Linked DNA regions of Homo sapiens: regions 1, 3, 4 and 5 are each linked to region 2. The links come from fine-mapping of genetic effects on gene expression. A gene starts in region 2. Each other region holds a variant in brackets. All regions are shown on one strand. Distances are between the middles of the regions.

Region 1 (6,041 bases), 42 kb before region 2:
GGTAGAAGAAAAACCTGAGGAAAGCAGTGAGTGGATTTGGTAAACAGCCCCAACAGGGCAAGAGCCAGGGCCCCTGACCCTGGGCTCACTGCTAGTCCACTTTCTTTCTTTTTTTTTGTGACAGGGTCTCGCTCTGTCACCCCAGCTGGAGTGCAGTGGTGCAATCACGGCTCACTGCAGCCTTAACCTCCTGGGCTCAAGTGATCCTCCCACCTAAGTCTCCCAAGTAGATGAGACCACAGATGCATGCCACCACACCCAGCTGTTTTTTTTTTTTTTTTTTTTTTTTCATATAGATGGGTTTTCACTATGTTGTGCAGAGTAGTCTCAAATTCCTGGGCTCAAGCAACAATCCTCCCTCCTCAGCCTCCCAAAGTGCTAGGGTTACAGGCATGAGCCACTGCACCCAGCCCTCATCCACTTTCTGACAGTTTTTCCCCCAAAACTTACCTCCTCCTTGAGCATATTCAGATGTTTCCACTCCTGATCTGTCTGAGCCAGGGAGAAGTGAACCAGCCAGAGAAGCCATGAGTGCCTGGGAGCACAGGCCCCAGCTGCAGGAACACCCACGTCTCAGCTCCAGCCTCCTGCTGCAGGTAGGAATGAACATTTTTTGTTTGTCGGATCCAGTTTCTCAAGAGAAGCTAGAAATTTGGACTTCTGAGTACAACCTGATTTTAACAACATTCGTTTTGTTTAAATCACAGCTCACCAGTTTTTGTTCTCTGGACTAAGGAATCCCCTTTTCTCTCCTCTTTGGTGATCTTTAAACACATGGTGCATTTGTGCACATCTAACTGTCCCAAAGGTAAATTTATCTGGTCTTTAAAAAGGGAGAATTCAGAAATTAAAATGAGTTCTTAGTTTAAGGAGCTGCCGGAGATGGGGAGGACGTCAAAGTGTAGGGCCTTTGCAGGAGTCACCCAATGGGAAAATGTGGCCTGATGGCAGATCCTCACCAGGTGACTGTCCTTTGTCCTAGTAGCGATGGCATTTGGCAGAACAGTCTGCTCCCTCACTGGGTCATAAGACTTGTAGACAGCAGCCAGGTACAAAAGAGCCTTGTGGCACAGTGTGGCAGGCACACCACTGATGAAACCGTTTGTTAAAGGTCACAGTGTGTGTACCGAGAGCACCGCAGATTCACGATAACAGAGGAGTGATCCATCACAGCTGTTCTTCCAGAAGCATTGTGAAGATTAGGTTCACTAAAATCAATCTTCTTGTTACAAATGGAAGATGACCGAGCCAGCAGGCTTCCGGCACGGAGCCGGCAGCATTCTTCAGCGGAAGCAGCCCACTGGTTTCATGGCCCATCCCTCGCCGAGTAAAGCAAGAGGTTAATTAAACAAATACCCAGCTCTCTTCCAGTCCAGAAAATTGAGGTATTTAGAGAAGAAACGGAGTAACATTAAGATGCAAAGAATCACTGAGCCAAGGGAGGATTTCATGGGGGATTTTGTGAGGCTTTCCATCTTTCTTTGCTCTCTGAGCTCTCTAAAATAGCAGCTATGAAATTCCTTCCCACAATGAACGTGCCTTATTTTTGGTCTTTTGTGGAAAGCACTTGATGAAGTGCCTCTGGCTTCACGCTCTAGTCTGCCCACTTACCACCTTCTGAGGATGAACAGAACCCGCATTTTCACCCAGGACCTCCACTGTTTTCACTTCACCTGTGGAGGAGCAGCCCGCGGAGTCCACCTGCAAATTAAACACGCTGCAGCCGCACGAGAGACAGCTGGCCCTGGTGAGCTTTCATTAAGGAGCTGGCTGTAGCGACCTGGGGTACCCCAGACTTGCTTGATTAAACAGGTAACTTTTCTCAGGTGACCCTTTCGCTGGGTTCTCCACTGATGTAGTAGATGATTTCTCAAAGATCATAGTGCTGAGTCTGTATTATTCAGATTTCACTGGTCTAAGTTGATGGTCTGATCATGACAGTGTTGAAACATGGGTTTCTGGTTTTCTCAAAGGCATAAGCGTGAAACTGTAAAGAATAAATCATTTAGGGGGAAAAAGCACATTTTTCCATGTTCCTAACTATTATAAGGAAGGCAAAACTCTTTTTTTTGAGACAGAGTCTCACTCTGTCGCCCAGGTTGGAGCGCAGTGGCGGGATCTCAGCTCACTGCAACCTCTGCCTCATGGGTTCAAGCGATTCTCCTGCCTCAGCCTCCCGAGTAGCTGGGACTACAGGCATCTGTCACCACGCCCAGCTAATTTTTCTATTTTTAGTAGAAGTGGGGTTTCACCATGTTGGCCAGGCTGGTCTTGAACTACTGGCCTCAAATGATCCACCCACCTCGGCCTCCCAAACTGCTGTGATTACAGGTGCAAGCCACCACGCCCAACCAAAACTGTCTCTTTTTATATATTCTCTGTAAAATCCCTGCAGCTTCTGCAGGTAATGAGGGCGAGACAGTCCCGGGGCACCTGAGAGTGTGGCCCAGGGATAACATGGGTCCCCAGACTGAGGCCCAAATCTTCAGGTCATTTGGCAAAGACATAAACAACAAGTTACGGGGAGGACTGAAAGTGACGGGGACTCAGCCCCAGCTGAGAGAGAGAAAAAATCGGAGAGTAATGCATGTGCGAAGCCCTGCGGGGCATCACCTGCAACACTAGACGTTTCCATATGGCACCACTTTTTCAATTCAAAGGAGGTTTCACGTTCTTCAAAAACTTTTTTTATGTGTGACCAATTTAAGATTATCCCCCAAATATTAGAGAGATACTAGTTGTGTGAGACAGAATAATGTCCCGCACTCCCACCCAGCCGAAGACGCACACCTCCTAATCCCTGGATCGTGTAAACGTGACGATAACATGACAAGGGGGCGCTAAGTCTGCAGACGGAATTAAGGACGCTCATCTGCTGACCTAGAAATAAGACCCCTGGATTCCCCGGGCAGATCCGAGGTCACCACAGGGGTCCTTCAAAGACAGCAGAGACGCAGAGGAGGCAAGAGGGAGAGATGGGGGACACCACATGGCTGGCTTTAAAGATGCAGGTGACGTCGGCCAAGGAATGTGGTGCCTCTCACTGCTGGCAAAGGAGGGGGATTTCCCCTTAGCGCCTCCAGGAGGACGCAGCCCAGCAAGACCCATTCTGGACTCTGATCTCCAGACTACAAGAGGATTAATGTGTGTTGTTTTAAGCCCCCACGTTTGTGGTGACTTAGAGCAGCCCCAGAAAACGCACACTCATTCATGCTGCCATTCGTCTGTAGACACCAGGCTCCGTCTTTGCTTCAGTGTCCCTAATGTTACACGGTTTGGGTATTTCTCCCTTGCCACTCACACACTCAAATGGCTCGAGCACTGTGGCTCCAAGCGCCCGCTGCCGTGGGCCTCCTCTGACAACGGCTGGTGCATCGAGGGGAGCGCGCCCTCTCCGTAACAGCATGGCTGAGCTTCCTCTGGGGCAAAGCTCCCTCCTGCTGCCTGGCTCTGAATACATCATGTCTGGTACACGGGAACCAAACACGGAGACTCGCAGACACTGGGCGGGTGTGTGAGAACACGGGTGGTCCCGGGGAAAGGCCACGCGGGCCATACTGTTGAGTGAAAGCAAACCACATCCA[C/G]GCTGCCTCGGAGTGTGTCTTTAACATTTATTGACGGGGTTTCCCACAGGGTCCGCAGTCAAAGAATCGCTGAACCGCGTTTCCTCGAGAGACGGTGTGTGGCATGGGCGCCTTGCTGCTGCCCCAGTCCCAGAGCTTCTCCTGTAGGGGTGTCGGCTACAGGAACCTTATCCCAGCTCCAAACTGGACGCCATCACATATCCTAAAAAAAGGGGAGAGATCAGATGCGGCGGCCGCTCCGCCAGCCCTGCCATCTTCACGACTCACTGAGCATGCGCCTCTCAGAAGGTGCCGCCTCCGCTTCCTCCTCCTCCTGCTGCCTTCCTGCCTGGCTGCCGGCCTCACCCTCACCGGCCCCGGCTGCTTCCTCCTTTGCTGGTTAAGAACCTTCACCAGCTGGTTAAGCCCTCGGAGAATGGAAAAGGGAAAGAAGGAGAGACCCAAATCCTCCTGCACTACTCCCTCCTCACCTCCTTCACGTTCCCCTCTCCGGACGGAGAGGACAGAGGGCCGATGAGAGGCGGAGCAGGGAGGGAAGGAGCCGGAAGGACAAGGTGGGTAGTGAGGATGGAGGAGAGGCAGGTGGACAGAACTTAAGGTCCGCCCGGCCCCCAGAAGGTCCCGGGGCTTAGGAAACCAGCAGTACCCACAGCCCTACAGGGGTTTAGCCTGACCACCTCTTAGACCTGCTCCTGACCCCAGGAAGGAAGGATGCAAAGGTCACATTGGTTGCCATATCTGTTATGAGCTGACCTTCTGCAGGTGTGACTCCACACAGTGGTTAAGAACCTGGGAACAAACCACCAGACCCATTTTCAGAGAGGAGCAAAGAGGCTCCAGTCACACGGCTGAGAAGTGGCAGGACAGGACTCCAGACCCGGCTCAGGGGCACCCACAGGCCTTGTTCTTTCCGACACACTGCCATGCACAGCTGGGGGGCAGCCTGTCCCCCTGACAGCATGCCTGCAGCAGCTCTGTCCGCCTGGAGCCTGTGCATGGGGCAAGGCCAATGCTGCCCATTTGGGACAAGGTGGGCCTAACCTAGGGACCTCAACTTCTGGGGAAAATGATATTCAGACTCCTACACAGCCGCAGCCGGGGCCAGGGAACACAGCCTTTTTGCAAGCTGTGGGCAATTTCTAGAAAAGGCCAGCAAGAATGGCTCCTTTATTCACGACGCCCGTGCCCTTGCCCAAGCTGAGGATTTGGAGCACATGCACACCGGCGGCAAGTTTTCCTTTTCCAACCTGACTCTGAGCAAGAAGACACAATATCTGATCCACGAAGAGATTCAACACAGATACTCACAAATGCTGCGCCGGCCTCCTGCAGGATGAAGGGTGCTTATTAACCAGCCCCGGCACTGCAGTCCTCTCACCAGAAGCCAGGACTGCAGCCCCTTCAAGATTACAGTAAGCCACATCCATGGCCTTAAAACACCAGAATCCACATCAAAACCCGGGCTGCATTTGTACCATTTAGTTGTGTTCAGATCTGTTTTTAGATTGTACACTCTCAGCTCCTTCAAACTAGTCTATACCTACATTCGCTACTTAGAAAAATGCCTGAACATAAGCTAGGAGCTAAAAAGGAAGTCAAGCTCTTGGCATATGTAATTCAGAAAACAAGCAAGCATTCTAATAAAGGCCTGTCACTCTAAGTACAAACAAACAGATTAAACAACTTCACAAGCATAGGTTTATGCTCAGAGACCACATAAACATGTCACAGAACAAAATACCCACTGCAAACATTCAAAGCAGCGCTGCGAAGTTCCACCAGACCAGGGGCAAGCCAGCCTTGGCATCCTCCAGACAGCCCCAAACATCCACCTTCTGCTGTGCACCCCACGCTCTCTCCCTCCCTCACGGCCGCTGTCTTGGTGCAGGGCTCCTGGTCATCTCCCACCTTCTTCTCACCCAGCACTGCCACTGCCGGCACAGGGTCTTGGAGTCTGATGTTCAAAGGCTTCTGACGAACTTGGACTCTGAGGCTGGAGGCCAGGAAGCACCCAGCATGGGGTGCTTTAGGAAGGTCATGCCAACAGCACCCTTGGCGCCTTGCACCCCACCTCCCACCACACGCCAGGAGCCTCTCCACCTGGCTCTCACTTCCAACACCAGGTGCAGTTGTAGTCATGGGGACCTCAGCGGTGAACAAGGCAGATGAAGTCCTGAGCTCAAAGACCCTGGCATATACCCAAGGGGAAAAAGGTCAGCGGGGCTGGAAGGCAAAGGCGTGGGAGCTCAGGGCCTGGACCTCCCCACTCCCCCTTCTGTTCCTGTAGGACGCGGTTCTGCCCGGTGCCCGCCGACAGCGCACACCTGCACAGCTTTGCTCCTGCCTTTGTTAGCCAGGACCACTGTCCCTGCGTGTCTTCTGCAAGCACCTGGCTGTCTGTCCTCTAGGAAGATTCAGCTCAGGGACCTGCTCCAGGGGGCCCTCTCAGCACCCTCC
Region 2 (6,157 bases):
ATCAATAAATATGAGCTGAATAAATAATGAGTGATTACTTTGTTCAAGATGCCACAGGGGATGCAAGCCAAGAAGATGCAGTTCCTACCATTACATCTAGAAATTTAGGATCAAAGGATAAGACGAAAATGCAAACAGACCCAAAACAAGCCAAAATGTAAATGGCACCAAAGGAAATGGCACGGAAAGGCGAAGCCCATCCAAATGCAGGGGATAAAGAACTTTCAGAACGGAGTTCTAAAAGATGGGAATATTTTGATGCTAAAGATGGATGATGGGAGGGGGAATGAAGTGCAATAGTGCGGTCCAAATAAAGCCATCCTCACAGGGCTAACAAGAATTCTGGACAAAGGCCAGGCGTGGTGACTCATGCCTGTAATCTCAGCACTTTGGAAGGCCGAGGCAGGCGGATCACAAGGTCAGGAGATCGAGACCATCCTAGCTAACAGTGAAACCCCGTCTCTACTAATACAAAAAATTAGCCGAACATGGTGGCAGGCGCCTGTGGTCCCAGCTATTCAGGAGGCTGAAGCAGGAGAATGGTGTGAATCTGGGAGGTGGAGCTTGCAGTGAGCCAAGACCGTGCCACTGCACTCCAGCCTGGGCACAGAGCAAGACTCTGTCTCAACAACAACAAAAAAAATTATTCTGGACATCTGGACAGAAATGTAGTTATAATTGGCTGGGCGCAGTGGCTCACACCTGTAATCTCAGCACTTTGGGAGGCCGAGGCGGGATGATCACTTGAGGTCAGGAGTTCAAGACCAGCCTGGCCAACATGATGAAACCCCCGTCTCTACTAAAAATACAAAAATTGGCTGGGTGTGGTGGCGTGCGCCTATAATCCCAGCTACATGGGAGGCTGAGGCAGGAGAATCGCTTGAACCTGGGAGGCGGAGGTTGCAGTGAGTGGAGATTGCACCATTGCACTCCAGCCTGGGCAACACAGTGAGACTCCATCTCAAAAGAAATGTAGTTACAATTAACCATTAATCAAGTTGCCTTTTTTTTTTCAAGAGCACAAATCCACATTGATTTATTGACTTTTCATTAGTTTAAATCCTTGAGGGGTACAGCATTACTCGGATTCTGTGTCCAACAGCCTTAGCAGGAAGATTGCTTCAGAATTTGGCACGAATCATGCCATTGTTTCTGTGGGCCCGAGTTACCTTTCCCCAGATTACTCTGGCTTTGTTTGATTTGCCGCCAGGAGTCACTATGTTGTTCTTTGCTTTGTATACATGAGCCCAAATAGAATTCTGTTTCATCTCGGGCATAAACACCTTCAATTTTAAGAAGAGCTGTGTGCTCCCTTTGGTTCCGGAGACTCCACTTATAGCCAGCAAAAATGGCCTTGGACCACAGCCTTCCAGACATATTTCCTTTCAGAAGTCCTGCTCCCGGCAGGCCGCCACAGGAGCCAAGATGGCAGGAAGAGCTCAGGTTGCACTCTGACCTACTTGCTAGTAACCAAAAGTCACAGATACTATTTGCATCCCCATTGATTTTACAGATAGGATTTCTAAAATTAGAATCATAAGGCTTTTGCTTAAGAGTTGCTTTAGATGTTTTTCAGATCTCGAATTCCAGCAAAACTGATGCTGCCAACCAGTTTGAAGACTCCTCCCCGCAACAGAGGAACGGAATCAGCATGAGAAGTTTCCTCATCTCCCTGTCCCATAACTTCACCCTTCACTCTTCCACCAATCAAGGATCTCCACACTTCAGCAAAAACATGAGGTCCAAACTCCTGAAGGAGATGGATTTGAGGTTTCCTCTCTTTTCCCATCTCCTCGTTCAGCGGCCCTGCAACTGAAACTCTTTCTCTGCTGCAACCCACTGTCTGAGTGTATTGACTTATCGAGCACACTGAGCAACAGACCTATTACAGTTACACAAAGAGATGTCAGAAGAGAAACGGTGTTTGATCTGAATGAAAGACATATAAAGGGAAGTTAAGTCCAATTATCGATGTCAGGCTGCGACTTCTGTGCTAAATTTTTTTGGAAGTTAATGGGGAACTACTGAAAACGTCTATGCAGGTCAAGTGAAGCAATCAAAGTTGCAGTAGAAAAGTAGTGTTGGGGCTGAGACTCAGGAAATCTGAGGTTTTAGGCCATTTGGAACCAGTAACTATGTGACCTTGGAGAAGTAACTCATTATCTGGCCCTTATTTAAGATTAGGATAAACGAGAGGAGTTTGGCAACCAGTACAGTTAGTCAGGCGCCAGGCACCCAAGTATTCACATGCATTGTCTTTTAATTCTCTTTTAAGCCAGGCGAGGTAGGTACTATTACTACCTCCACTTTAAAACAGGAAGTAAGGCAGAGAGCGGTTCCGTCTTTTGCACGGTAGACAGGAGAAAAGAGGACCCCTAGATAGGTTTGAGTTAGAAGACTTCAAAGGATTCTTGTTGCTCTAGGAGCCTACAATGGCTCCAGCAGCGGCTGAGCGGGGAAAGGCTGGAAGTGACCAGTAAAGAGAGAAAACTTAAAATCATGCAAAGAAAGAGCACATTCACTGCGGTCTAAGACATCACAGAAAGTTGGCAAGTCCTTTGGGCCACGGACTCGCCGAGTGACCTTTAGCCAAGTCTCGTCCCTCCTATCAGGTTCCTGCTCGAAGGTCTGCAAGACTCGCTGGCCCGAGGCGACCTCTTTTCGGCCTCCTCCACCCAGCCCGGCACCCTTGGCACCCTCTCTCCCGGTGAACCCTGGGCGCAGCCACGAGAGCGTCTCCCCGCGGCGCCCGTCTGCCCTGCTGGCCCAGAGGCCTCGCAGCCCGCGGGTCGCTGGGCCTCTTACCCGGGCGTGCACAGTCCCCATGGTTCCCTCTCCAGCCGCTGCCTCGCAGAGCTGCCCGGGCGGGACAGAGCGTCTGCTGCTGAGGGCAGAAGGCGGGTCCGCGGTGGCGGAGCTGCAGGTCAAGGCAACTCCCACAAACCCCCGGACGCGGAACACTGGGGGCGGCCATGATTCCCCGCCTTCTCCGCGCCCCCTGGCTCGCGATGCCTTCGCTCATTGGTCCTTATGCGCCTGTGACCCGGATGTTCACACGGCCGCGGAGGACGTTCTGACTGCGCAAGCGAAGAGCGTTCACTGACATCCGCGAAGCTGCTGGCGCGTGGACTGTGTGGGGAGGGCGCGTGGGGTGAAGGTGGGTCTGCGAGAGGGTCCGCTGGGAGGCTGGCGTCTGGCGTTGGCGCCTGAAAGAGATCAGACCAGCTGTTGGGTGTCACTCAAGTCCTGCTGCTCTTAGCCCTCCTAGCACCCCCGACCCGAGGGTGCTGTGCTTGTGCCCACGCGCCGGTGAAGCCCCGAGACTCAGCGGGGAGACCCCGGGTCCGGCCACCCCCGAGCTGCAGTAGTCGGGTCTCACCGGCATCTGCTACACAAACCCGGATTGGTGCCCTGGCTCCTTTCGTTCAAGTCATTGGAACCCCCACTCAAAATCGTCAAAATGAAGACGATGGTCGTGTCTCCTTCTTGGGGGTTGGATTAAAAGGGCCTAATGTGAGAGACGGAAAGCAAAGCTCCCGGCACCGGGCCGGGCACACGGTGGGCGCTAGATAATGACCGCTATTCACTCAACTGCAGCCAGTAATTATGGGCGAGGGCCATCTAGGTGCTTGCATGAGAACCAGTCATATCGGTGAAGAAGACGGCCATGGGCTTAGGTTTTGGTGGCAAAACAGCTCCCCTGCCCCAAAAAAGAAAAGAGAATAGAAAAGAAAAAGGCATAATAAATATCAGCCACACATTGTGATAAGTATATTGAAAGAAACGAGACAGAATAAGAAAAGAGGAAGCTTCAGTATCCTGTCACGTTGCCACTCCCTTCTGATAACAGAAGCATCTTTTCTTCTGTCCCCTTACTCCCTCCCAGAAACCCTGACACCCTTTCCATTTAAATAGCAGCACCCTAGGCCTCCAACATCCCTGAGCTAAATATTCAAGTCCACATGTCCCTTCTTGCCTGGAAAGAGACAGAACCCAGCACCAGCCAGGCCCCTGCCCTTCCCTCACTCTCAGTTCCCTGAGCCTCAATTCCTTATCTGTAAAATGGAAATGATAGCCTAAGGCATAAGGTCTGAGGACCTCATGAGATCAAGCATGGGGCCTGGCACTCTGTAAACATCGAATCAACCAGATTTTCTTTGCCCAAACAGCCCTCTTTTCTTACACTTTCTTCCTCGTTATTCTTCTGAGTATGCCACTTGTAAAGGATAAGCCATGAGGTTGCCCTGCAGAGTGCAAGATGGTTGCAATATTTGAGAGCCTATTGTGTGTGAGGCCCTGGAGGATGGCAGAGGGAACAGGAGGAAAACAAAGTCACATGCTTTACCCTCAAACAAAGGGCTGTCTGCGATAGTTACAATGTATATATTAAAGGCTATCTGTGATAGTTACAATGTATATAATATATTAAAGGCTGTCTGTGGTAGTTAACAATGTGTATATTAAAGGCTGTGATAGTTACAATGGGTATACTATATTAAAGGCGGTGGTAGTTACAATGTATATAATATATTAAAGGCTGTGATAGTTACAATGTACATAATATATTAAAGGCTGTGATAGTTATAATGTATATATTAAAGGCTGTCTGTGATGGTTATAATGTATATAATATATTGAAGGCTGTCTGTGATGGTTATAATGTATATAATATACTGAAGGCTGTCTGTGATAGTTAAGATGTATATATTAAAGGCTGTCTGTGATGGTTACAATGTATATAATAAAGACTGAGAAGTCTCACAGTGCATATACTGGTTTCCTTCTCTTTAACCCAGTATTTCTTGAATTTATTGGGTCATAGAGATTTTTGGTTTTGGAGATTTTTCTGTGGCCTCTGGCAATGCTATTCAACAGTATTTCTTGTGCTCCTCTTTTGGGCACAAGAGAGGATTGCATCTCCCTGCTCCCATCCATGTGACTTGCTTTGGTCAACACATTGTGAGCAGAAGAGAGATGTGCCACTCTGGATGAGAACCTTTAAGAACCATATTTCTCTAACCATGCCATGGCAATCAGCGATCCCCCAATGGTGGGGCACCTACAGGCTAGGTCTGGGAGTGAGGACGACTTAAAATGAAGCCCAGCCACATTTGCTGGACATACAGCACGAATGAGAAATAAACCTTTTGGGTTTTGCTTGTTAATGCAGCATAACTCAGCCTATCCTATATGATAATACCAGCTAGAAACATCTTCAAGGAAACCAGCATCCCAGAAAACCTGGTTTACAAAGTGCCAATCTTGTCCAATCAGAAGTAGAAGTGCAGTTTAGTGACTAAGCTAGTTTCCTTAATACAATCCAGGCTGAGTGCAATGGCTCATACCTATAATCTCAGCACTTTGGGAGGCCGAGGCAGGAGGATTGCTTGAGCCCAGGAGTTCAAGATCAGCCTAGGAAACACACCCCATCACTACAAAATAAAAATAAAAAATAAAAAAAATAGCTGGGCATAGTAGCAAGCACCTGTAGTCCCAGCTACTCCAGAGGCTGAAGCAAGAGGATTGCTTGAGTCCAGGAGTTCAAGATCAGCCTGGAAAACAGTGAGACCCCATCTCTACCAAAAAAAAAAAAAAATGTTTTTAATTAGCTTTTAATTTATTTAATTAAAACCTCCTCAGGAAGCTGAAGGAGGAGGATTGCTTGAGCCCAGGAGGTCAAGGCTGCAGTGAGCTGTGATTGTGCCACTGCACTCCAGCCTGAGCAACAAAGCAAGACCTTGCCTCAAAAAAGTAAAGAAAAACACCCCAAATTTAATTGGCCATGGGGAGGGGAGACTGGATCTTCCCACGGGAGTCATCCACCTATTAGTTTGGGACACCCCTTGGGGTGCCCTTTTTCATCACCTTCCCAGGGGCTGAGCGCCCTGAGGTGAGGGGCTCACCTCATTGCCTCTATCAGCCAGCACCTGACCTCTGAGGAGTGAAGGTGAATCAGTGAGAGGAGCCTGGAAGGGCATTCCCTGGGTGGAGGTCCCCTCGGGAAGCAGGGTGACTCAGGGAAGAGGCTCTGAGCTGCTGGTGGGACTGCAGGAGCTGGAGAGGGTGTGCTAGGAGGGAGTCTGGAGGCAGAGGAAGGCGCTGGGGTTGTGGCGGGGCCTCAGCTTGCCCAGCAGCAACGTGGGTCCCCTCGGGAAGC
Region 3 (5,000 bases), 25 kb after region 2:
GAAGCTCTGGGTTAGTGCTTAAGTGCTTAACAAGCTTTCACATGTGGGCAGAGCTTCTCAGAGCCACAAACAGGCTGATATGGAGGGAGGACATTGGCTTTGGAATCACTCCTGCGACAAATCCTTACCGAGCATTCCGGTGCTAGGACAGGCTCTACTCTGGCTCTCAGGGTTGCCGTCTACTGTTGTACAGTGTGTGCACTGCACAAAAGTGCCTGGCAAAGAGGCAGATGGAAACTGGAGTCCATGTTGTGTTGGCCAAGTCCTAGGGCCAGATGGGCACCTATAGGAGTGCCCATGTAACATGCCTAAGGGGGTCATATGAACTAAAGGGTGCTCAGTGCACGGGGACAGAGTGTGATGGAAACCCAAAGGAGAAACATGGTCATGGATTCAAATCCAGACCCCTTTGCTGCTTGCAAGGAGGATACAGAAATCTGGGATAAGACCTTTAACCCATGAGCCCATCTCCCCCCATGCTTTGACAATTAGAACCAACACCTGGAGGGACTTTTGAGACTTAAATGAAACAATGAACCTGGGACCTCAGAAAATGTCCTCTAACCCACAACACAGCAGCATTTTGGATAAATTATTCTAAGGGTGAGTTTTCCTTCATCTATATCCTTAAACCACCTTATTGCCCATAGCTCGGCTGGGGCAGGCAGCTTTTGCTACAATTTGGACAGAGCCTGCATCTGTGAAACTCATGTCAACAATGATTTCCAGCCACAGCCATCACAGCCAGCCATCAGAGCCAGCCATCAGATACCCACAGAGAAAGGCATCCAAAAGATTCCAGCTGGGAGGCTCTCCCCAGCCCGCCCTTCCACACGGAGGAATTTCAGAGCAGAGTTTGGCCTAAAACAGGTCCAGGAGAGAATCAGACATGTTCAGCCACACCTTAGCCATCAAGATTCTTGCCTGGAGTCCAGAAATGATCACAAGTTTACACAGCAACATTTCCAAAATCGTAGTCACACAATTTCTAGGGCAGATGTAGCAAGGCATCAAAAACCTCACTAGGAGCTGGGCATGGTGGCTCACGCCTGTAATCCCAGCACTTTGGAAGGCTGAGGCACATGGATCACTTGAGGCCAGGAGTTCGAGACCAGCCTGGGCAACATGGTGAAACCCTGTCTCTGCTAAAAATACAAAAATTAGCTGGGCATGGGGATGTGTGCTTGTAATCTCAGCTGCTCGGGAGGCTGAGGCAGGAGAATCGCTTAAACCCAGGAGCCGAGGGTTGCAGTGAGCTGAGATCGCGCCACTGCACTCCAGGCCTAGGTGATACAGTGAGACTCTGTCTCAAAAAACAAACAAAAACCTCACTGCATAAAGAGACACAGAATGAAATGCTAGGAATCTGGAGTGAAGACCAAGGAGGAAGGCGGCTGGTGGATCATCTTCATTCAAGGGGTAGTCAGAAGCCCAAATATTCTCCTGCCATGTACAACTTTTCCATGCATTTTGAACTTTTTTATAGTAATGTTTTGAATTTAGGAGCTCCAGTGGTGCAATTGATTAGCATGCGGTATGTACACAGTAATGCTTTGAATTTGCTTGCATTGAATTTGAAGAATAATGGGTTCTAATTGTCAGGAAGATGCCTATGAGCGCACTCAACGGGTGATGACACAGCATCTCGGGCCTCTATACATCAGATGCCAGTGGCACTCCCCCAGATTTTGTTTTGTTTTGTTTTGTTTTGTTTGTGAGACGGAGTCTCGCTTTGTTGCCCAGGCTGGAGTGCAGTGGCAGGATCTCAGCTCACTGCAAGCTCCGCCCCCCGGGTTCACACCATTCTCCTGCCTCAGCCTCCCGAGTAGCTGGGACTACAGGCGCCCGCCACCACGCCCAGCTAATTTTTTTCGTATGTTTAGTAGAGATGAGGTTTCACTGTGTTAGCCAGGATGGTCTCGATCTCCTGACCTCATGATCCACCCACCTCGGCCTGGTACTCCCCCAGTTCTGACAACCCAAACTGTCTTCTGATGTGGCCAGACATCCCCAGAGGGGGTTGGGGAAGGATGCAAGACTAGCAAGTGAGCCGGCACAGACCCAATGCCTACTCCAGAGCCTGCAGAACAAACACTCCTGCTTCGGCTTCTCCATCCCCCTGGCATGGCTCAGAAATCAGCCAATGCACATATTCACTGAACTCAGCCAAATCTGAACACTGCCAGCAGCTTTTGAACAAAGCTATGGGCTGAAAAGGACAGAGTAGGACCCAGAGGGCTTGAAACTCTCGACCAGGAAGGAAAGCCAGAACCGTGCACTGGGGAGCCAGAGAGCATCACTACGGTGCTGCTGGGTGCACTCCTGCTGAGTTCTGGGGAAGATCAAATAACCACATAAAGCCACCAGCATAACAAGGGGTTGGGGTCCTGCTGATGCCCAACCATGCTGTGGCAATGTCGGAAATCCAAAATATGCTTTGGTCACTCAGTAGCTGGGCACTCCAGTGGCTCCGTGGACCACTATCCTGGACCCCAAACTACAGAGAATGAGAAGAGCCGCCCTGCAGTGAACCAAGACATGCCCTGTTCTGACAGAGGAGCAGAGAGTGACCTGGGTGCAAGCTCGCTGGCCGTGCTCTTTGGGCAAGTATGACTCTCAAGTTCCCCACAGCCACACAGGATGAATAATCACATCTCCCCTTGGTTGTGGGGACCCTATAAGATAACGCACAGGAGCACGTAGTCTGTAATGGGAGGCTCCTAATGCGAGTCCCTCTGCCACGTGGCTCTGCTGGTGCTACATACAGGATTGCATCAAAGGTTCCGCTGCTGCTCTTGTGAGTTCAAAAATTACCCTAAAAGGCTAGTATTTTACAGCCTAAACTTCCTCCTGTGCATCACAAAGTGGCAAAACAAAACAAAGCACAAATCTAGGTTAGACCAGGCTGACAGATTTTTGTTGTTGTTTACAACACATGTGATTGTTGGCCGGGCACCATGGCTCACGCCTGTAA[T/C]CTCAGCACTTTGGGAGGCCAAGGCGGGCGGATCACCTGAGGTCAGGAGTTGGAGACCAGCCTGGCCAATATGATGAAACCCTGTCTCTACTAAAAATACAAAAATTAGCTTGGCGTGACGGCAGGCACCTGTAATCCCAGCTACTCGGGAGGTTGAGGCAGGAGAATTGCCTGAACCTGTGAGGTGGAGGTTGCAGTGAGCCGAGATTGCACCACTGCACTCCAGCCTGGGCGACAGAGCCAGACTCCATCTCAAAAAAAAAAAAAAAGAAAAGAAAAAAATATATATATATGACTGTTATAGTTCCCCCTAAGAGTAAAGCTCCACCTTCCAGGGGTAACAGATTCTTCAGTGTCATATACTTTATTTACCTTTTTTTTTTTTTTCTTTTTGAGATAGAGTCTCGCTCTGTCACCCAGGATGGAGTGCAGTGGTGCGATCTTGGCTCACTGCAACTTCCGCCTCCCAAGTTCAAGCAATTCTCCTGCCTCAGCCTCCCGAGCAGCTGGGATTACAGGTGCACACCACCATGCCCAGCTAATTTTTGTATTTTTAGGAGAGACAGAGTTTCACACTGTTGGCCAGGCTGGTCTCGAACTCCTGACCTCAAGTGATCTGCCTGCTTCAGGCTCCCAAAGTGCTGGGATTACAGACATGAGCCACCGCGCCTGGCCAACATCATATAGTTTAACTAGATCACTGAGAAGCTATCTGATGCTTAAGGTGCAGATTAAGTGAACCAGCCAGTTTACCTTACAGATAGCCAAATAATTAATTACACATGCAGTAAGTTTTGCTGCCCGGGTAGCCTGGAAATAGGGCCAGCTGTGGCTACTCTGTCTGAAAGGCAGTGAGGCATGGGGCTCCACCATGGGACAGACCCTGAGGTGCCCGACACCAGTGCCCTGCAGGCAGGAGATGTGTGAGCACACTTCAGAGGCCCCCAGGACTCAGCGCTAGCAGAGAAAGCCGACTTACCACGCCTCTGAAGGAAGGAGGGATAAGGCCACTGTAGAAGGGGATGAAGCAGGAACATACCAAGGCCTGTGAAAGCAAAGGAGAGAGAAGTTATAGGCGAGAGCACCCTTTTAATTTTCCTGATCCTTCATAAGCTTTCTCCAAGTGAGCAGGGCAACAAACTTGAAAATGCCCTTTGCACAGAGTAGGTTAATCCATGGGTCAAAAGAACGGGGAACTAACATACACCCTCGGACTTCAGGCCCATGGGTCTCATCTATTGCATAATCCCCTTAACAACCCTGTCAGTGAACTTCAACTTCCTCTCCTTGCTCCCCATGAGAGTCACACTGGGTCACCACAGACAGGACCAAGGGTTGTTGGCTCATGGACTGAAAGGGGCTAGATCGGTGCTGTTCAAATGCCGGTATTCATTAGCATCACCGGAGAGCCTGTGGAACCAGAGATTCTGCGTCCCTCCCCAGAATTCCCATGCAGCAGGTCAGAGGTGGGACCTGAGGGTCTGCCATTCCAATAAGCTCAAAGGAGCTGCTGCTCTGCTGGTCCCAGGATCACACTTTGCGAAGCACTGTGCTACAGAGCAGTCAGCAGGCACCACGGTGATTCACTGGGAGAACGGACCCATGTGGGAACAGACAAGTGCTGGCTGTTTAGAGAAAGCTTCCGCAAACAAGGTTAAACAGAGGATGCAACTGGCTGCAGGTTAGACGCGCCAGGCTGCTGTCTTGCACAGATCTGTCAAGTAAATGGAGTCCTTCCTCCAAGGAGCGCTTATGAAAGCATCAGCTGAATTTAATGGTGTTTTGGTATTACAAATTATCTTCTCTCTGCTAGACCCTGAGGATACAGGCAAATAAGGCACGTTCCCACCCTTGTAGGGTTTCCAGTGAGAAGGCATCTTCATTATGGAAGATGCATAGAGGAAGCTCGGGAGAGGCACACCTGCAGGACAGGTTCCTTGGACTGGACGGTCATGAGCCAAGTGTTGAAGGAAAGGGAGGAATTATTTGAAATTGTAACTGCCAGGCAGAGGTGGGCAGATTACTT
Region 4 (5,000 bases), 29 kb before region 2:
CAGTGACTCACGCCTGTAATATGAGCACTTTGGGGGGCCAAGGCGGGCAGATCACCTGAAGTCAGGAGTTCAAGACCAGCCTGGCCAACACGGCGAAACCCCATCTCTATTAAAAAATACAAAAATTAGCTGGGCGTGATGGCGGGCACCTGTAATCCCAGCTATTCAGGAGGTTGAGGCAGGGGGAATCGCTTGAACCTGGGAGGCAGAGGTTGCAGTCAGCTGAGATCACGCCACTGCACTCCAGCCTGGGCAACAGAGCGAGACTCCGTCTCAAAAAAAAAAAAAGTAAGAAAATCAGGGGAGAATGTTTAATAATGGAATAATATGCATCCACTTAAATGATGTTTTAAAGTTCCATAGCATGTGGAGATACCTCTGACGGATGTTGCATGTCAGAGACGGTTCTAGGAGTATAAATGAGACAACCTTCCCAGAAAGTACGATAAAGCCCTAAAAGATCTGGCGATTTCACATCTAGAATTTCATATTAAAGTAAAACTTGGCCAGGCGTGCTGGCTCACACCTGTAATCCCAGCACTTTGGGAGGCCAAGGCGGGCAAATCACGAGGTCAGGAGTTTGAGATCAGCCTGGCCAACATGGAGAAACCCCGTCTCTAATAAAAATAGAAAAATTAGCCGGGCATGGTGGCGGGCACCTGTAATCATGCTACTCAGGAGGATGAGGCAGGAGAATCACTTGAACCTGGGAGGTGGAGGTTGCAGTGAGCTGAGATTGCGCCAATGCACTCCAGTCTGGGCAACAGAGCAAGACTCCATCTCAAAAAAAAAAAAAAAAAGAAAGAAAGAAAAAATAAATAAATAAATAAAACTTACAGATGAGTACCAACATTCAGTTCGAAGGTGAATACATTGTTTTATAATCATAAAAGAAAAAAAAAAACACAAACTCAATGTCCAAAGCTTGGGATTTGGTCTTTAAAAAGATAATAGTGTGTCATAAGACAAAACACGCAGCCATTAAGATGATAAACTTTCTCTCTCTCATTCCTCACTGGGGAAATGCAAAAGGACGCGGCCACCCCGGAAGCTCGCCTGGCAGCTCCTTACAAAGGGGAGGCGTGCTCTTAACACGTGACCAAACAACTGCGCTCCCCGGCACTGACTCAGCAGATGTGACAACTTATGTCCCAGAAGCTGTCCACAACAACCTGCGCGTGAATGTTGATAGAAGCTTTACTCATCACTGCCAAACACTAGAAGCAACCAAGCTGTCCTTCGGCAGCTGAATGGACAAACAAACTGTGGTACTTCCAGACAAAGGAATATTATTCAGCAATAAGAAGAAACAAGTTATTGGGTCCCAGAAAGACATGGAGGGACCTTAAGTGCATATTACTACGGAAAAGAAGACAACTTGAAAAGGCTACAAACTGTATGATCCCAACTCCCAAACTGTCTGGAAAAGGCAAAACTCCATGGATAGTTCAAAGACCTGTCGTTTCCAGTGGTCTGGTGGGAGGGATGAAGGGAGCCCAGCATTTTTAGCGCAGTGAAGCCACTTTGTGTGATCCTGGAATGGTGAATGCAGGACATCATGCATTTGTCAAAGCCCACAGAAGGTACAACACTAAGAGTGAACCCTCATGTAAACTATGGCCTTGAGTTAATAAGGTTATCATATTGCTTCACCAATCCTAACCAATGAAGCATCCTAACACAAGGTGCTAATAATAAGGAAGCTATGGGGGTTATACGGGAACACTGTACTTTTTGCCCAACTTTTCTGTAAACCTAAAACTGCTCTAACAAATTAAGCCTATTAACTAAAATATAGGATGTCAATAATATGAAATATGTACCTGTTAAAAATGGCATTTACTCGCATAAAAATATACTGTTACATTTTTATGGGAGGTGATGAGAGAAATGGGTTTAAAAATAATACGTAGGGGCCAGGCGCAGTGGCTCACATCTGTAATCCCAGCACTTTAGAAGGCCAAGGCCGGTGGATCACGAGGTCAGGAGTTCAAGACCAGTCTGGCCAACATAATGAAACCCCGTCTCTACTAAAAATACACAAAAAGTTAGCCAGGCGTGGTGGTGTGTGCCTGTAATCCCAGCTACTCAGGGGGCTGAGGCAGGAGAATCGTGTGAACCCGGGAGGCGGAGGTTGCAGTGAGCCGAGATCGTGCCACTGCACTCCAGCCTGGGCGACAGAGCGAGACTCTGTCTCAAAATAATAATGATAATATTAATAATAATACATAGGGGTCGGGCCCAGTGGCTCACACCTGTAATCCCAGCACTTTGGGAGGCTGAGGCAGGCGGATCACGAGGTCAGGAGTTTGAGACCAGCCTGGCCAACATGGTAAAACCCCATCTCTACTAAAAATACAAAAATTAGCTAGGCATGGTGGCGGGTGCCTGTAATCCCAGCTACTTGGGAGGCTGAGGCAGGAGAATCATTTGAACCCAGGAGGCGGAGGTTGCGGTGAGCCGAGATCGCGCCATTGCACTCCAGCCTAGGCAACAGGGCGAGACTCCATCTCAAAAAAAATAATAATATGTAAACAAAGGAAGAGTAGGAAGCACATGTCAAACCTGCAGGGAACAGACAACAACACGTTTACACATGTTCTCTCTGGGTAGGACTGCGGGTCATTTTCACAGAGTTTTTGCTCAGATATATTTTCTCATTTTCCTACAATTCTCTCAATAAATGTTCTACACCTGCTACATGGTAAGTTCTG[T/C]GTTAGGTGCTAATTCCACCACCGTGAAAGAGGAATGTCTATTATCGCTGTAAGCTAATAACAGGTACATGGTTTCCAAAGTGAGACGCGAGCCTTCTAGACTTGGCGCCGTGAGGGGAAAGGACAGACCTTCGCTCTGTGGCCCGATGCTGTGCATGCTGAATCCGCGGATGCTTGTGGGTCCCCCAAGGTAAAACCTAGGACAAAACAGCACACAGGTCAGAGGAAAGTCAGGAGGTGAGAAACGACATGACACACGGAACGCGTAGGAAACACATGTCAGACTCACATTCGATACTAGATTATCGACAGCATTTTTACAAGGCAAAACCTTTGAGAAAGACCAAGAGGGTGCACACTACAGGGGAATTTCATAAAAATCTCAACATCTAAGGAGACACTGCAAACTTTGGAGATGCAGGTGAGACACAAGATGCCAAGAAACACACTAGGAGAGAGGGGCAGGGCAAACTGTCTGTCACAAAGGAACTATCAGCTGTCTGTGAGAATTCATGACGCAGTTCCTTTTCATGGCGGGCCTCCTACTGGCTCACAGTGCGATATTAGGGGAAGAAGAGCAGGATACAAATTATTTAATAGTATAATCCCAATATTACAAAAAGGGGGGCTATAATACTAGAAACAGACCAAAAAAGAATTCTTGTTAGGTTTATAATTTTTAAATATGAGCTCCTCTTGTTCCCTAATGAACTGGATTGTCACACTCTCACCAACCATATCTGAATAATATGAAAAGCGTGAATTAAAAATTAATTACATAAAAACCCATCCACTTTCTGAAAAATTGAACAGCATATTAGAACCCGATTTTAGATTATGATAATTACTAAAAAATGAATTTAAATGACAAGAGAAATTCTGTGTAATCTTTCCAGCCAAGAGGCAGCCAAGGACACAACCCCGGCAGGTGCCCTCAGAGCCCTCTGACCTTTGAGGCCGCGGGAGGCTAAGAACACCCTGCAGGTCTGCAACAGCACAAAGGGAACAGGGCGCGGCTTTTTCTGGTTTTCCTACCAAATAAAAGCCTTTATGAATTTTTTCATTTTAATTTGAGTTTTAAAACCTATAAATATGTTTTTACTACTTGGGATTTCTAAGCAAGGCTTTTCTGAATACCCCATTAACATGAATTGCAAAAACAGCAAGCTTCGTTTTTAAAGAAATGATCAATCAGGCCACGTGCGGTAGCTCGCGCCTGTAATCCCAGCATTTTGGGAGGCTGAGGTGGGCGCATCACCTGAGGTCAGGAGTTAGAGACCAGCCTAGCCAACATGGTAAAACCTCGCCTCTACTAAAAATACAAAAATTAGCTGGGCGTGGTGCCGGGTGCCTGTAGTCCCAGCTACTTGGGAGGCTGGGGCAGGAGAATAGCTTGAACCCGGGAGGTAGAGGTTGTAGTAAGTCGAGATCGTGCCACTGCACTCCAGCCTGGGTGACAGAGTAAGACTCTGTCTCAAAAAACATACATAAATAAAATAAAAAAGAAACGATAAATCACACATTTGAATTCAAATGATCCAGGATGCATATAACATAACGAGTGAAATGGTTCTGCCTGCTGCATCCCAGGCTCTGGGGTGCCCACCGTCACTGTTTTGGTGGCTGGCTTCCCAGGCCCTCGGTGCTACACCTGCATGCACGCTGGAAAGGGATCCACTAAACATATTCATGTGCAAAATGTTAACTTATGAACACATATCTCCTTATTTTTAATAATTACATAGATCTGGAATGGTTGTGCTAGAATTTCACCATTTCCCTACTGCGGAACTTACATAAGGCAGTTTCAAATTCTTTGCTATTCATCAGCAATGCTACAATGGACATCCTTCTACACATAAATCTTTACACACTTAGAAAAGTACTTTTGTAAATTAGATTCATGGAGTTTTGTGAAACTGTTAGGATCCAGAGTTTATAAACCTAAAATTGTTCTACTTCCAAACCACCATCCAAAAAAGCTGTACCAGTATATTTTAACTAATGCAGGGTTGAAAAAAAAGTTTTTTTGCCCTAGAGGACAATGATTAGTATTTCGAAGCAACAAGTACAAGTTCATACCCTGCTGGTAGGGGTATAAATTGCTGTAAGCTTCCTAAAAGCAGCACCCAGCAATACTATGAGTTTTACTTTGAGAGAGTAATACCACAGAAAATAAAATAAACAACAAGTTATCTTAAAAGTTATTATTTACAATGTTATTTACAAAAATCACAAATTAGAAACCAATGAAATATCAAAAAATACACGGTAGGCTAAAAAGTT
Region 5 (6,224 bases), 59 kb before region 2:
GTGCACACCTGTAATCCCAGCTACTCGGGAGGCTGAGGCAGAAGAATCACTTGAACCCAGGAGGCAGAGGTTGCAGTGAGCTAAGATCATGCCATTGTACTCCAGCCTGGGCAACAAGAGTGAAACTCCATCTCAAAAAAAATAAAATAAAATAAAATGGGGAAGTAAAAACAGCCACAGGTCGAACATCCCTAATGAAATGGTTCAAAATCTGAACATTTCTGAGCACTGACGTGATGCCAAAAGTGGAAAATTCCACACCTGACCTCACATGACAGGTTACAGTTGAAGCACCAGGCACATAACACACAGTTTATTCAGCAGCCCCAGGGGAAAAAAGACCCTTCCAGCCCCCTTCAGCTGTAATATCTCTTGTACATAAACTTTGTTTCACGCACAAAATTATTTAAAATATTGTATAAAATTACCTTCAGACTCTGTGTACAAGGTGTATATGAAACATAAGCGAATTTCATGTTTACACTTGGATAGGATGATGTGTTATTGAAGTGGCCTCATTTGTCTGGGGTGATACCCGAGATTCATTGTCTCACAGCCACAGAAAACTAAGACATGGACACACAGAGAGTGAGGTTTAGAGTGGAAGTTAATAGGTGAAAGAGAAGAGCTAGGCCAGGCACAGTGGCTCATGCCTGTAATCCCAGCACTTTGGGAGGCTGAGGCGGGCGGATCACGAAGTCAGGAGATCGAGACCATCCTGGCTAACACGGTGAAACCCCGTCTCTACTAAAAATACAAAAAATTAGCTGGGCCTGGTGGCAGGTGCCTGTAGTCCCAGCTACTCGGGAGGCTGAGGCAGGAGAATTGCGTAAACCTGGGAGGTGGAGCTTGCAGTGAGCCGAGATCACGCCACTGCACTCCAGCCTGGGCGACAGAGCGAGACTCCATCTCAAAAAAAAAAAAAAAGAAAGAAAGAAAGAAAAAGAAAAAGACAGAGAAGAGCTCTCTGCCCAGAGAGAAATCCCAAAAAAATGCGTTGTTGGTTCCATGGTGAAATGTCAGGGGATTTTACAGATTAGTTTGAGAAGGTGGTGTCTGATTTGCATAGGGCACAAACGATTGGTTGGGCCAGGTGTGCCATTTGTATAAGGCGTGAAAAACTGGTTAGAGCTAGGTGTATCATTTGTATAAGGTGTTAAAAGTTGGCTGTCTGCACCCTAATCTTTTTTTGTTTGTTTGTTTTTGTGAGACAGAGTTTTGCTCTTGTTGCCCAGACTAGAGTGCAGTGGCACAATCTTGGCTCACTGAAACCTCCGTCTCCTGGGTTCAAATGATTATCCTGCTTCAACCTCCCAAGTAGCTGGGACTACAGGTGTGCATCATCACCCACAGCTAATTTCTGTATTTTTAGTAGAGATGGGGTTTCACCATGTTGGCCAGGCTGGTCTCAAACTCCTGACCTCAGGTGATCTGCCCGCCCCAGCCTCCCAAAGTGCTGGGATTACAGGCATGAGTCACCGCGCCCAGCCCCAATCCTATGTATTATGTAGATGGATTCTCTGTCTGGCCAGTGTCATGTTGTTCGTTTCTTTATTGTATACGTGGTAACAACAGAAAAGGAAAGATGGAGTCTTCATGTTGGGTACGCCTGGCCCCAGGTAGCCCTTTTCTATTGGCACAGCTGTCTGCATTCACCCATGTAAGTTTTTAGCATGTTTATCTATGTTTGCAGCTTGATTTTTCAGGCTGCTCTTTGTTAGAAAAAAAATAATTTTGGGGGCTGCTTTTTATTAGAAGAGAGATCTTGTCAAGGACTCTTTCACCCTCACTATCTGTCTAAATAATTTCTTTCTATCTCCTGTATCATTATTAAATGCAGGTTAGAACTTTTTTTTTTTTTTAATTGCTGTGTCTGGGCCAGGCGCAGTGGCTCGCGCCTGTAATCCCAGCAGTTTGGGAGGCCAAGGCAGGCCAATCATTTGAGGCCAGGAGTTTCAGACCAGCCTGGCCAACATGGTGAAACCCCATCTCTACTAAAAATACAAAAATTAGCCAGGCATGGTGGCGGGCACCTACAATCCCAGCTACTCAGAATGCTGAGGGAGGAGAGTTGCTTGAACCCAGGGTGCGGAGGTTGCAGTGAGCTGAGATTGCACCACTTCACTCCAGCCTGTGCAACAGAGTGAGATTCCGTCTCAAAAAAAAAAAAAATTGTTGTGTCTGTTGTAATGATTTTTTTGTCTTGTATGTGCTACAGATGACAATCAAGAACTGGCTTGATGGCTGTGGACTAAGTTGTATTTCTTTTCAAGGTGAGAGGAAGGAAGGACAATGATCAAACCGGAAAAACTTTCCTCCTTCCTGGCCTGGCTCCTGTGGAGTTTACATAACTAGCTTTCTCTCTGGGGTAATCTCACTAAAACTACTTTCCAAATTGCTTTGCAGAGCAGCAAACATAAATATTAACTTCAAGATTGGAAAGTGCCACTTTCTAATAAAAAGAGAGAATTTAATGAGATGCAGAAATATGAACTTAGCTCCTTCTCCATCAATGCCGTCTTTGCTTCTTAATATGCTCCCCACATATGCCTCGTGCCAGGGCTATGCATACATTGTACACTTGGAGAATGATTATGAAAATCAGATTACATGCAGCTGCCCCTATTAAAGAAAACCATTTGGTTTGCTTTTGAACTGTGGCTTCTGAAGAGGCCAGTTCCATATAATCTTAATTAAGGACAAGGAGGAAACATTTCCTGAGCTGGTGCTGCATGCACTCTGTGCCCCATGCTGGGGGCTGCACTGTGTGATCTCAGTCAACCTCCCTTACCCACACTCTTGCCTTGGAGAATCTGGGCCTGCAGAAAGAGGGACCTGAGTCCAGTGTGTTTGAACAAACGGAAACATTGTTCCTCTGTGTATAGTACCCAAACACAGGACCCTTGAACAATACATGCTGGAACTGTGCAGGTCCACTTACATGTGGATCTTTTTCTCTTCTTTTCTTTTTCAAACAGA[GAT/T]GGAGGTCTTGCTATGTTGCCCAGGTTGGTCTTAAACTGCTGGCCTCAAGCTATCCACCCACATTAGCCTCCCAGAGTGCTGAGAAAAATCTTTTTCAATAGAAGTTACACCGAGCCAGGCATGGTGGCTTACACCTGTAATCCCAGCACGTTGGGAGGCCGAGGTGGGCAGATCACTTGAGGTCAGGAGTTCGAGAGCAGCCTGGCCAACATGGCGAAACCCTGTCTCTACCAAAAATACAAAAATTAGCTGAGCATGGTGGCGGGCACCTGTAATCCCAGCTACTCAGGAGGCTGAGGCAGGAGAATCGCTTGAACCCAGGAGGTGGAGGTTGCAGTGAGCCGAGATCGCACCACTGCACTCCAGCCTGGGAGACAGAGTGAGACTCCATCCAGAAAAAAAAAGAACAATGTAGTGTATCTCCAAAACATTATGTTGAATGAAAGAGGCCAGACAGATGCAAAAGAGCACAGACTGCGTGAATCCACTTATTTGAAGTTCAAGAGCAGGCGACCTCTGTTCTGTGTTGATAGTGGCTTCGCCGGCGTGGTGAGGGGCACTGAGGATCTCCCCTGCATATGGGCACCAGCAGGCTGGCTGGGTGATGTGCAGCCTGATCTGGTGGTAGTCACACAGTGTACACAAACGTGAAAAGTCAACAGACGTTCCACTGAAACGTGTGCATTTCCCTCTATATAAATTAGACCACAATAAATTCTTGGGGAAAAGAAAGTCAATACGTGATACCCCTGGATGGGATAATTTGGATTCTTTACATGTGTGAGTTTCCTTCTGGATAACATGGCAGCACTCTAAGTGCTTAAAGAGGGTCTTAAAAGCTGCAAGCGGTCAGGCACGGTGACTCACGCCTGTAATCCCAGCACTTTGGGAGGCCGAGGCAGACGGATCACCTGAAGTCAAGAGTTTGAGATCAGCCTGGCCAACGTGGTGAAACCTTTATCTACTAAAACTACAAAAAAATTAACCGGGCGTGGTGGTGCGTGCCTGTAGTCTTAGCTACTTGGGAGGCTGAGGCACGAGAATCGCCTGAACCCGGGAGGTGGAGGTTGCAGTAAGCTGACATCGCGCAACTGCACTCCAGCCTGGGTGACAGAGCGAGACTGTCTCAAAAAAGTTAAAAAAAAAAAAAGTTAAATAAATAAAGCTTGTCAGCTTTCTTTCACTTCTCTTTAATAGAACTAAAAAGAAGCTGATATTTCTCAAAATAAATAAATAAATAAAAACCGCCTGTAGCTCTTTGGGAGAGAAAAGGGAACTCATTCCAGGGAATACTTAAGACTGTGAAATGTCTTCTTGTGTTGTTCATTTTCAGACCTCCAAGCAATTTTAGGCGAGTTAGAAGTGTGTAGAGAAGTGATGGAAATATTTAATTGATGTGCGATGGAGAAAATGCCTTATTTCCCCCAGGTTATACTTTTGAGGCAATCTTACTGCACTTTGGGGTAGGGTTTTCAAGCACGCTGTAACCATAATATCTAAACTAGCATTTTGAAATGGTGTTATTTAATCAGTCTGCTAATTTAGTGATCTGGCAAGAGAGTAACCTGCGATGTTCACAGTAAATACTAAGAGCAGGAGGAGATGACCAGACTTGCCTAGAATTTTAAAACTGTGATGGAAACACTTCTGCCCATGCCACGTGTGAGCAGAACATGAATCACCAACTACACTGATCAACCGTCTTTCACTCAAATGATTTTGGAAGCATCAGCAAACTCTGAGACAAGGGAAGTTGGATTTTCATTTATTAGCAATTCCTCCGAGTTCTCTTTTTGCATACCAGGCAGAGTAAACCACATATGCGTTTTGTTCCCTTAAATATTTTATAGATGAAGAAGGAATAAATAACATGGTACCAAGTTATTGGTTCCTAGTCTTCCATGGGGGAAAACTGGGAAAGTCCCCCAAAGATTATGCCCCCTTTAAAAAAAGACTCCCCTCTGACCAGCTATGAGAAAATGGGGGATGAGCAAGCTCCTTGAAACATGCCAGGACCTCTTAGGTGGGTGGGAGAACAAAGGCCAAGTCTATTAGACATTCACACCTTAGTCTGAATTTCTTTTGCCATTCATTTGCCATCCAGGTATCACCTGCTTGCAAAATGAAAGGTTTTTATTTTCTCCTCCCACCCAATTTGAGAGCAGTGAGGGGATGAGAGTGGTGTTTTGGATGAAGGAGAGAATGATGACGGGGGTAGGGGAGAACTGAAGTGTAGGGCTTTGTGGGAGGGAACTTGCTCTACGATGCTGGAGCTAAGGATGTGGCGGCCATAGCACATCATGAGAACATTGCTGTGGCCAGGGAAGACACAGTGGTCTACGGCAGGGGTGTGTAAGGGGCCAGACAGACTCTGATGCAAGGACTCAATTTTTTAAATTTTATTTATTTATTTATTTACTGAGACAGCATCTCACTCTGTCACCCAGGCTGGAGGGCAGTGGTGTGATCTTGGCTCACTGCAACCTCTGCCTCCCAGGTTCAAGCACCAGCAGGCTTACAATGTTCTTGCCTCAGCCTCCCGAGCAGCTGGGATTACAGGCATGCACCACCACGCCTGGCTAACTTTTGTATAAAGTAGAGACAGGGTTTCATCATGTTGGCCAGGCTGGTCTCAAACGCCTGACCTCAAGTGATCCACCTGCCTCAGCCTCCCAAAGTGCTGGGATTATAGGCGTGAGCCGCCGTGCCTGGCTACAAGGACCCAATTTTGCTATTGTAGCTTGAAAGCAGCCACAGATGATGTGTAAGCAGGCCAGGTGCGTGCAGCTCCCACCTTCATCCCAGGGCTTTGGGAGGCTGAGGCAGGAGGATCACTTGAGCCCTGGAGTTCGAGAACAACCTGGGCAACACAGCAAGAGTCCATCTCTATGAAAAATATTTTTAAAAAATTAGTCAGGCATGGCCGGGCGCAGTGGCTCACGCCTGTAATCGCAGCACTTTGGGAGGCCGAGGCGGGAGGATCACGAGGTCAGGAGATCGAGACCATCCTGGCTAACACAGTGAAACCCTGTCTCTGAGGCAGGAGAATGACGTGAACCCAGGAGGCAGAGATGACAGTGAGCTGAGATTGCGCCACTGCACTCTAGCCTGGGCGACAGAGCGAGACTCCATCTCAAAAAAAAAAAAAAAAAAAATAGGCATGGTGCCTAATTCCAATAAAACTTTTTTTTAAGAACACAGAAATGTGAATTTCACATAATTTTCATATGTCGTAAAATTTT

Direction of the effects. Positions count from the first base shown, and alleles are read on the strand shown. Sizes are in standard deviations (SD) of each study's normalised expression. Not every link is listed here.
As copies of T replace C in region 3, the expression in ileum of the gene that starts at base 2,962 in region 2 goes up (moderate effect, 0.47 SD a copy in GTEx).
For the expression in cerebellar hemisphere of the gene that starts at base 2,962 in region 2, T is the low allele of the variant in region 5 and GAT is the other (large effect, 1.1 SD a copy in GTEx).

Evidence for each region.
Region 1: its variant is fine-mapped to the expression of SAMM50 in whole blood (INTERVAL, PIP 0.91).
Region 3: its variant is fine-mapped to the expression of SAMM50 in ileum (GTEx, PIP 0.99).
Region 4: its variant is fine-mapped to the expression of SAMM50 in whole blood (TOPMed, PIP above 0.99).
Region 5: its variant is fine-mapped to the expression of SAMM50 in cerebellar hemisphere (GTEx, PIP above 0.99).

The regions. Positions count from the first base shown.
Region 1 is chr22:43,994,083-44,000,123 of GRCh38, reverse strand. It overlaps SAMM50 (SAMM50 sorting and assembly machinery component), which reads right to left. Exons shown (of 15, transcript NM_015380.5): 15 at 3,595-3,786. The coding sequence ends at 3,741. It also overlaps a transcript of PARVB not described here. Among named protein-coding and RNA genes, the nearest start is that of PARVB, 27 kb to the left of the region's middle. RefSeq lists an enhancer at 3,775-3,944. The variant C/G (reference allele first, on the strand shown) is at 3,585.
Region 2 is chr22:43,952,247-43,958,403 of GRCh38, reverse strand. It overlaps SAMM50 (SAMM50 sorting and assembly machinery component), which reads right to left and starts at 2,962. Exons shown (of 15, transcript NM_015380.5): 1 at 2,806-2,962. The coding sequence starts at 2,826. It also overlaps the pseudogene RPL35AP36. RefSeq lists enhancers at 2,218-2,427, 2,233-2,984, 3,108-3,187, 3,268-3,317, 2,985-3,737 and a silencer at 2,870-3,144.
Region 3 is chr22:43,927,843-43,932,842 of GRCh38, reverse strand. PNPLA3 (patatin like domain 3, 1-acylglycerol-3-phosphate O-acyltransferase) reads right to left here. Exons shown (of 9, transcript NM_025225.3): 3 at 3,954-4,019. Among named protein-coding and RNA genes, the nearest start is that of PNPLA3, 6.5 kb to the right of the region's middle. The variant T/C (reference allele first, on the strand shown) is at 2,975.
Region 4 is chr22:43,981,844-43,986,843 of GRCh38, reverse strand. SAMM50 (SAMM50 sorting and assembly machinery component) reads right to left here. Exons shown (of 15, transcript NM_015380.5): 12 at 2,844-2,911. Among named protein-coding and RNA genes, the nearest start is that of SAMM50, 29 kb to the right of the region's middle. The variant T/C (reference allele first, on the strand shown) is at 2,715.
Region 5 is chr22:44,010,803-44,017,026 of GRCh38, reverse strand. It overlaps a transcript of PARVB not described here. Among named protein-coding and RNA genes, the nearest start is that of PARVB, 10 kb to the left of the region's middle. The variant GAT/T (reference allele first, on the strand shown) is at 2,980.